Regions from separate parts of the Homo sapiens genome. Here region 2 is reported to be linked to region 1. Evidence: microRNA targets listed by miRTarBase, many of them from high-throughput screens and not tested one by one. Region 1 holds a microRNA gene; the other region holds the end of a gene's coding sequence.

The links. The annotated mature microRNA hsa-miR-3942-3p reads UUUCAGAUAACAGUAUUACAU and lies in region 1 at 2,239-2,259, shown strand. An mRNA with a match to its seed (bases 2 to 7 or 8) in the 3' UTR can be bound and repressed. Matches are read on the target gene's strand: a 7mer-m8 pairs with bases 2 to 8, a 7mer-A1 pairs with bases 2 to 7 and ends in A, and an 8mer does both.
Region 2: miRTarBase lists SCARB2 as a target of hsa-miR-3942-3p. Seed matches in the 3' UTR shown: 7mer-A1 at 3,064-3,070 and 7mer-A1 at 945-951.

What each region holds. Positions count from the first base shown.
Region 1 is chr15:35,370,470-35,374,538 of GRCh38, reverse strand. It overlaps MIR3942 (microRNA 3942), which reads left to right and starts at 2,175; the gene lies at 2,175-2,283. It overlaps DPH6 (diphthamine biosynthesis 6), which reads left to right. Exons shown (of 9, transcript NM_080650.4): 8 at 931-1,018; 9 at 2,336-3,659. The coding sequence ends at 2,389.
Region 2 is chr4:76,158,438-76,162,498 of GRCh38, forward strand. SCARB2 (scavenger receptor class B member 2) reads right to left here. Exons shown (of 12, transcript NM_005506.4): 12 at 300-3,314. The coding sequence ends at 3,276. LOC124900718 (a long non-coding RNA gene) reads left to right here. Exons shown (of 2, transcript XR_007058144.1): 2 at 1-330. Among named protein-coding and RNA genes, the nearest start is that of NUP54, 12 kb to the left of the region's middle.

The DNA.
Region 1 (4,069 bases):
AAGTTTAATAATTTGGAGCCAAATATTTTGAGATTTCTTCTATTGCCACCGAGTAACTTTGCATGATACAAGTCGATTCAAAAATATTTTTACATTAGCGACAAAATGTCAATGTCAGGATTTATTTTACTGTACTACAATGGTCAAAATGCTAACTATTAATATAAACAATAGAAGTACTTCCCAAGGCACTAAAGTGATATGAGGAATTTCTATTTTTAAATTTTCAGTTGAAATTCAAAACATTATTACTCTCTTAATAAACAATAAAAAATAATTCATTATTAGAACTTTACACATAATCTTAGTTATTCAAATGTGCTTTACAGGGTATCTTTGATAAAAGTTGAGTTAATTTACATGTATCCATATGGTGCCAGCATGCAGTTCATACCATTTTACCTGAATGTGGTCATTACTATGTCAGACAATCAATTTTAATAGCAATGATACTGCAGTGTGAAGAGTTCATCTAGAGCTTAAAATCATCACCAGTACTGCTTTTGTGAAGGATAATTGAGATTTTGTGTGAAACATTGAATGAATTACCTCTTGAAAATGAAAAGAATAATGAAGATAAAGCACTAATGTTTAATGCTTAGCCTATACCAAGCAAATACGTGAAAATGAAATTGAACAGGAATTTAAGTCTTAAAATTGTTCAGAGAGCTTTGAGTGAACCTGAAAGTTGAACTCTTATGTTCTTATGAAGATAGAAAGCCTCATTGTTTTTTCTTAAAAGCTTAGTATACTTGAACCTTTTCCCAATTAAATACTGGGTTATTAAAAATATTTATTAATCACTACATGTTGTATACCAATGGAGATAAATATAAAACAAGAATGTTTAGTCTCTTCTAGTCAGTAGGAGGAATGATTTGTCACAATTTTTGTAGCATATAAATGTATTGTAAAATTTTTGTATTTCAGGGATTCATCAGAAGTAGTCATACATTCAGCTGATGCATTTGCACCTGTGGCTTATCTACGCTTTTTAGAATTGCACTTGGAGGACAAGGCAAGTAAATCTAAGATTCACAGTGATTTCAATAGAAATTTGAGATATATACATTGGCTTTGCATATATAATTCTGTAACAACAGATGACAGGAAAAAGAAAATTGATTTTTATCATTAGTGGTTTTTTTTCAGCTCCTCAGTCAATAACTAAGAATTTTACAAATGCTTATAGTTTTGAGTTATATATGATACAAAAGATACTACATTTATGAAAAGTTTGCAGGTCAGTTAAAAAGGGAATAGTATATACATTAAACAATGGGAGGACAATATAAAATCAAATATTAAATCATCTAGCAGGATCACATTTAAGTTACTGTACATAAGCATTAAGGGAAGGGTTTGAGGATAAATTGGATTGTCATTATTCAAAGCTTAAGAGAGGAAAAGGAGAAATAAAACCTTTACAAAAATATCCAGGAAAAGAGAAGTAAAAATGGAAGATGGAAAGTGAAGCAAAATTACAATAAAGAGTTTTATTTTAAATACACTGTCAAGATACAGTAAAATTTTAATTTAAAGATATCTTGTGGAATAAAGTTCTGGATTAGATTCCTTGATTGAGAGGTCTCATCCTTCAGATGTTGCTTTATATTAGTTACCATAAAAATGATAGCTGAAATTATGTGAAGAAATGAGTGTAGTGACAGAAAAGGATTAGAAAATGTCTTCTGTATATTTAGTGTTCTTTCCCCCAAGTCTTGAGGCACACCCACAGTTACATATTTTACATCATAGGAAATCTGAAGGAGTAAGAGGATTAACAAGAATTCGGCAAAAGTAGGAAAAGAGTGGTAATGCCAAAAATCTCAAGATGAGAGGGTTTCTACAGGTGAGGATAATTATAGGTGCCAGTTCTCCAGAAGAATGACAATGGGCAGGATTAAAAATAGGTTGTGGAATTGGGCTGGATGATGACTATTGGTGACCTTTTATCAAAAAGCTGGTAACCCCCACAAGAATTAAGTTACACTATCCAAATGTTTTTCAGATTTACTTGAACCCCTAACTTGTAGTTTTCTGCTACTTTTGCTACCATGTACGCACACACAAAGTCAAAAGCACTGAATTCATGTGTAGGCATTCCAGCCATTCTATGTTCAGCTCTACCCGAATAGCTCACTGTTCACCTCGTTGTTTTGGTATTTGATTGGTCTTCAGTATGACACCTCAAAGAAGCAATACTGTTACCTGAAATAGGCTGCGAAGATAACAGTATTTCAGATAACAGTATTACATCTTTGAAGTGTCATATTCACTGACACTGAATAAATATGGTGCATTTTCCTTCCCTTTCCTTCCCTTTTTTTTTTAGGTGTCCTCAGTGCCTGACAACTACAGAACATCTAATTATATATATAATTTTTGAAAAGTGTTTTGGAACATTGTTCATTAAACCACCATTTCTATACAAAAAAATTGCATAGTATTTTCTCAGTTACTATGACTAGTTTATTTTTTTCTCATGACTCTTATTTTTTTAGAGAAACATACTTTCACTAGAAGAGGTTAGTGGAACCATTTATTAATTGGGAAAATGTCGACGGCATGTTCATTAATAGTGCCAACTTTCTTGGAATTCACTCTTTCTCTTTCGTTAACACATCTTCCCTATGACCTTTTTTTTCTTTTATTTCATCTATAAACCCCATTTCTGTAGCATTTCTTTTTTTATCACACTAGTTTCTTTTCCTCCTTCTCTCTTTCTTGCTCCAATCCCTACCAATAATGTCATGATGCAGAGGCATTTGAAAATGAAGATGAAAAGATGGTCACTTTATTTAGCCAGTCAAGCTTATTCTACTGGGTGTCGCCAAAGCGATTTATCATTTTTATTTTAAATATATTCATGGTTGAAGTGTTTCAACGTTATTGGACAATTAGGAAGAATGTCCTTAACTCTTACAAGTTATTTTATAACTGATTTTTAAAATGCTGTTTTTCAGTATTAACTATGTTGACCTTAGAAAACTTTTACAAAAAATAGACTTTATGTTTTAGAACAGTTTTAGGTTCACAGCAAAAATGGAGCAGAAAATGCAGAGATTTCCCATATACCCTCTACCTCCACACATTCACAGCCTCCCCTACCGTCAATGTCTTATAATAGAGTGGTACATTTGTTACAACTGATGAACCTACATTGACACATTATTATCACCCAAAGTCCATAGTTTACGTGAGGGTTCACTCTTGGTGTTGTACATAATATGGGTTTTGACAAATGTGTAATGACATTTGTCAACCGTTATAGTATTATACAGAATAATTTCACTGCCTTAAAAAATCCTCTGTGTTTTACTTATTCATCCCTCCCTCTCCTTTAACCCTTAGCAACTGATCTTTTCACTGTGTACATAGTTTTGCTTTTACCAGAATGTAATGTAGTTGAAATCATACAGTATATAGCTTTTCATGCAGTATATAGCTTTTCAGATTGGCTTCTTTCATGTATTAATATGCATTTAGGTTTCTCTGTATCTTGTCATGTATATGTAGCTCATTTTTTTTTTAGTGTAGAATAAAATTTTATTGTCTGGTTCTACCACATTTCATTTGTCCATGCACCTATTGAAGAACATCTCAGTTGCTTCCATGTTTTGGCGATTATGAATAAAGCGACTATAAACATCCATGAACAGGTTTTTGTGTGAAGATAAGTTTTTTTCAGGTGTATAAATACCAAGGAGCACAATTACTGGATCATATGGTAAGATTATGTTTAGCTTTGTAAAAAAAACTGCCACACTGTTTTCCAAAGTAGTTGTACTATTTTGTATTCCCACCAACAATGAATGAGAGTTTCTGTTGTTCCACCTCCTGACCAGCATTGAGCATTGTAGGAATTTTGGACTTTTGCCATTCTGGTAGGTCTGAAGTGTTCTCTCATTGTTGTTTTAGTTTGCAACTACCTAAAGATATGTGATGTTGAACATCTTTTCATGTTTGTTTGCCATCTGTGTATCTCCTTTGGTGAGATGTCTCTTCAGATCTTTTGACTATTTTTAATTGGGGTTTTTGTCTTATTATTGAGTTTTAAGAGTTCTTT
Region 2 (4,061 bases), not on the chromosome of region 1:
GAAACATCTATCAGCTGACTGACTCCTGCCCCATTTAGTTGAGGGTTGCCTTGGGTTATTAACTCCCTGATACTCCTATGGTGCTTTGAGGGCTCTTGAGAAAGACTTAAGACAGAAAAGCAGAATGTGGGACTGCTTGGAGTGAAACTTGTCAGGCTGATTGTAACTGTCCACTACAGCGAAGCTGAAATCAGACATGGCCCAAGTGTGTGACTCAGGGCTGCATCTGTCAAGGAACATCTTTCCAGGGAAACTCCATAAACAACAGGACATCCAATGACATATGACTTCTAGAGCAATTTTATATAAAGTGGTTTTTTATTAATGAAACATTTCATTGCATTAAGGGTAGAAATAAACATGTCAAGAACCGCATGAAGTGAACCAACTGTATAAGCTACATGAAGAGCATTCTGGTCAGTATTCTTGTTAACAGGCACAAGCAATTTAGTGATAATGTCCAGAGGGCCAAGGATGCGGACCACCTTTTGCAGAACTCATATCTCGAGCAGTTTAAATTAAAAATTAGCCTCCCTTAAGTTAAAAACCCCAATAGGGGTTAGTCGTGTAGTGCTTGTTCCACTTGACCATTAGTGATCTTTCTAGAACATGAGGAAATCAAGTCTGGTTAGAAAAGCCTGGAGCTAAAAGTGGCAAAGCCCATTTCCTGTCCTGTGCTCAACTCCTAATTTTCCCTGAGAGAAGTGAGTTAAGCTCTCTGTCTTGGTTTCTTCCTCTCTAAGTTGAGGATCATGGTACCAGAAGCTTGCATTCTGTGATCATGACAGTGCTTACAATCACAAAGCCTTTGGGGGTCTTTCTAAGATAACTGCCGCAAGAAAATGAGCATGAGAAATAATTCATCTTCAACTTAAAGCCAAATAGGTGCATTCATTCCTCTTAATCTATAATTTTGACTGTAGTTTGTAGATCTGTCTCAGACTTTTCAGAAGGATAGTATCAAATGTGATTTAAACCAAGTAACTATTAAGAATCATAAAACAGGCCAGGCCCGGTGGCTTACGCCTGTAATCCCAGCACTTTGGGAGGCTGAGGTGGGCAGATCGCAGGGTCAGGAGATTGAGACCATCCTGGCCAACATGGTGAAACCCCGTCTCCACTAAAAATACAAAATTTAGCTGGGCGTGGTGGCACGCACCTGTAGTCCCAGCTACTTGGGTGGCTGAGGCAGGAGAATTGCTTGAACCCGGGAGGCAGAGGTTGCAGTGAGCCGAGATCATGCCACTGTACTCCAGCCTGGCGACAGAGTGAGACTCTCTCAAAAAAAAAAGAATCATGACACAAGTATGGAAGTAATGTTTTTGGTCTCCCTGCCAGTGTGCAACTCAGTCTAAATGTGTATATCATTAACTGTTATCATTTACAGTATTTAAAATATCCTCCTCACAGATGATTATATCCTGATAATAGGACTAAACCAATAAGTATGCACTAGCATTGTCAATTTTATTAGTATGGATAAGTACATGCATAATTAAGACATGCCCAATTATCTAGTTAAATGTTGATAAATTCTAAAAATGTAGATATTTAGCATTATTGAAGACCAAATATTTTTGTTAGTTTTTTTACATTTTGGTGAGTTGGAGTATCTAAAGGTTCTATCTTGATTCTATAGAAAATTTGAGAGTTTAATGAATTGCCTCTTCAAGAGGGGAAATATATCACATATTGTTTTAGTGTAGAAAAAGGAAAAATTGTCAGTAAAACAATTTATTACCTCAATACAGGGATAAGAAGCTATGGAAATGAAATCTATATTTTTTTCTTCATTTGCTTACATTGAAATCCAGTTTTAAACAAAAAAAATCCTTTTGAATGGTTCAGTTGTTAAGAAATTCTATAAGCACTTTGTCAGCTAAATGTATAGGCTTCTCAATTCAAAATGAATGCTGAACTTTGAGAATCAAAGAAAATGCCCTTAAATATGCTTGAATTCTGAACACTGTGACATATGATGGCTCCCAATTCCCTGTCTTAGGTTATGCTGAAACCAAGAAGTCCTTTGAAAAGTGGTGTCTCTGCTTCTGGTCCTAACAGACCTTTCTTTAAAGTACTTTGTGCAATATTTTAAACATCCATCATTCTGTCAGCAAAATGATTGTCACAGGAAGTATAGGGCACACGTTTCTCTATTCAGTGAGTGACAGTGAGCTACAAAACACTGGAAAGAACTGAAACTGAGGAAGGAACTTGTAAAAAGAACTTCAAAATTACCAAGAAGGCGGCTGTCCCAGAAGAAATATCTCTTTAGTCTAATCAGACTTTCTGAAACTTATGTGTAACTTAGGCTGTAGATAGATGGATTTCCCATATTCATAATTTTACAAATAATCACTCAATATTAGATTAATTAATACAGTAACATATTTGGCAAGGGCGACTCAGGAAGAAAAATCAGTTACTCATTACATTCTCTCAGAAGCATCTTTTCGTAGCATGATCATTTTGACTAAAAAAAAAACAGTTAACTATCCACAAGCATCATAACTAGCAATTAATTCTACATGAAATATCTGTACTTTATCCTCACCAACATTATTTATGCATTCTCTTCGTTCACAAAAGTACAAGTTAAAAATCCTTAGGAGCTTATCACTATCAACTCATGGGTATTGCCCCACCCAACCCCTTTCCCATTTGATTCTACCCAGTATTTTATTGCAGTTGGAAGACTGAGTTTTCCTGGAAGAATTATGAACTGAAGATCAGCATAAAATGTAATATGTTTTAGAAATCAGATGCATTTGAATGATATATTGGATGAAGCTACCATTTTACCCTGGGTCCCGAACTCTTATTTACTTCTGTTTTGCAAGTGAAATGGAGGAATACAACATAAAATGGTATATACGCATTTTGAGCACAAAGTTCGGTGAATGAAGCATACTGAATGAAGTTAGACCAGTAGCATTAACAAGTGATGCAGAGACATTTTACCCACAATAGTGGTCACAAAATTCTGGAGCTACCAGCACCCAACAACAACAAAATTACTATACAAGGGTTTATTAAATACTTGCTAGACACATAAAAGAACAATTTCAGAGCCCACATGATTTTATAAAGCTTAATGGCCAGCCATGTCAGCCTGCTCTTTAACCTCTGGCCAGAATGTTCCTATCACTTGCCAGCGCCGTGTCTTTTTCCTTCTTTCAACAGGCAACAAGCCTGCAAGGAGGTGGAGGGTTTCCCCACGTCATCGTCCAGGTCAGGACAGCTCACACAGTTTCTTCACCAAGCAAAGGCAATGTTTAGGTTCGAATGAGGGGTGCTCTTTCATCCGCTGTTCCCTGAAACACAGAAGAGAGAAAACAAGTTAGATGTTCATGTCAGAAACTTCTCCCCAGTGTGAAAAGTTTGGGTGGGGAGTGGGGGCATGGAAGGAGGAGAGACCTATAGGAAGGTGGCTCATCTCACTCACCTCCCCTCTTGGGCTGCTGCTTGTTCTTGAAGATTCAGCAGGCCTAACCTTTCCAGGAGGCCTTCTCTGACCACTCCCACCCTCAATACCAGAGCAGTACCCTTCTCTGTGTTGATCTGGATTATAAAACTTAGACTCTATTCAACTTGCCTCCTTCCTGGTTTGAAACCTACTAAGGAGTAGTGTCTCAGAGGTATTAGTTCTCAATAATTCCTTGCTTGTTGAATATATGAGGAAGGTTAATTGTAGGAGCAGTAATTAACATTTCCATGAGGTTTCATTTGTGCTTAAGACAATTTCAATGACTGCATAAAGTCACACTGGAAGATCCACACATAGAAATGGCAAAATAGTTTGCCTCACAGCTAATTCAGGCTAAAGTGACTGGCAGGGGATAAGAGAAATAATGGAAGAATATGGAAGTCAGGGAAATTCAGCTAATTTTACTCAGATGGTTTCACGTATTTATTTTCTACTTCACATTTGCCTTGGACACTTAGTTGAGGAAACTGGAGGAAAAAAGGCCACTGTTGTAAAAAAAAGGAAGCTGCAGAAAATTTAAGAAGGGCTTCTACAGAAAAGGCTCATTGCAGGTATTCAGGTTCCTGGCTGGGCT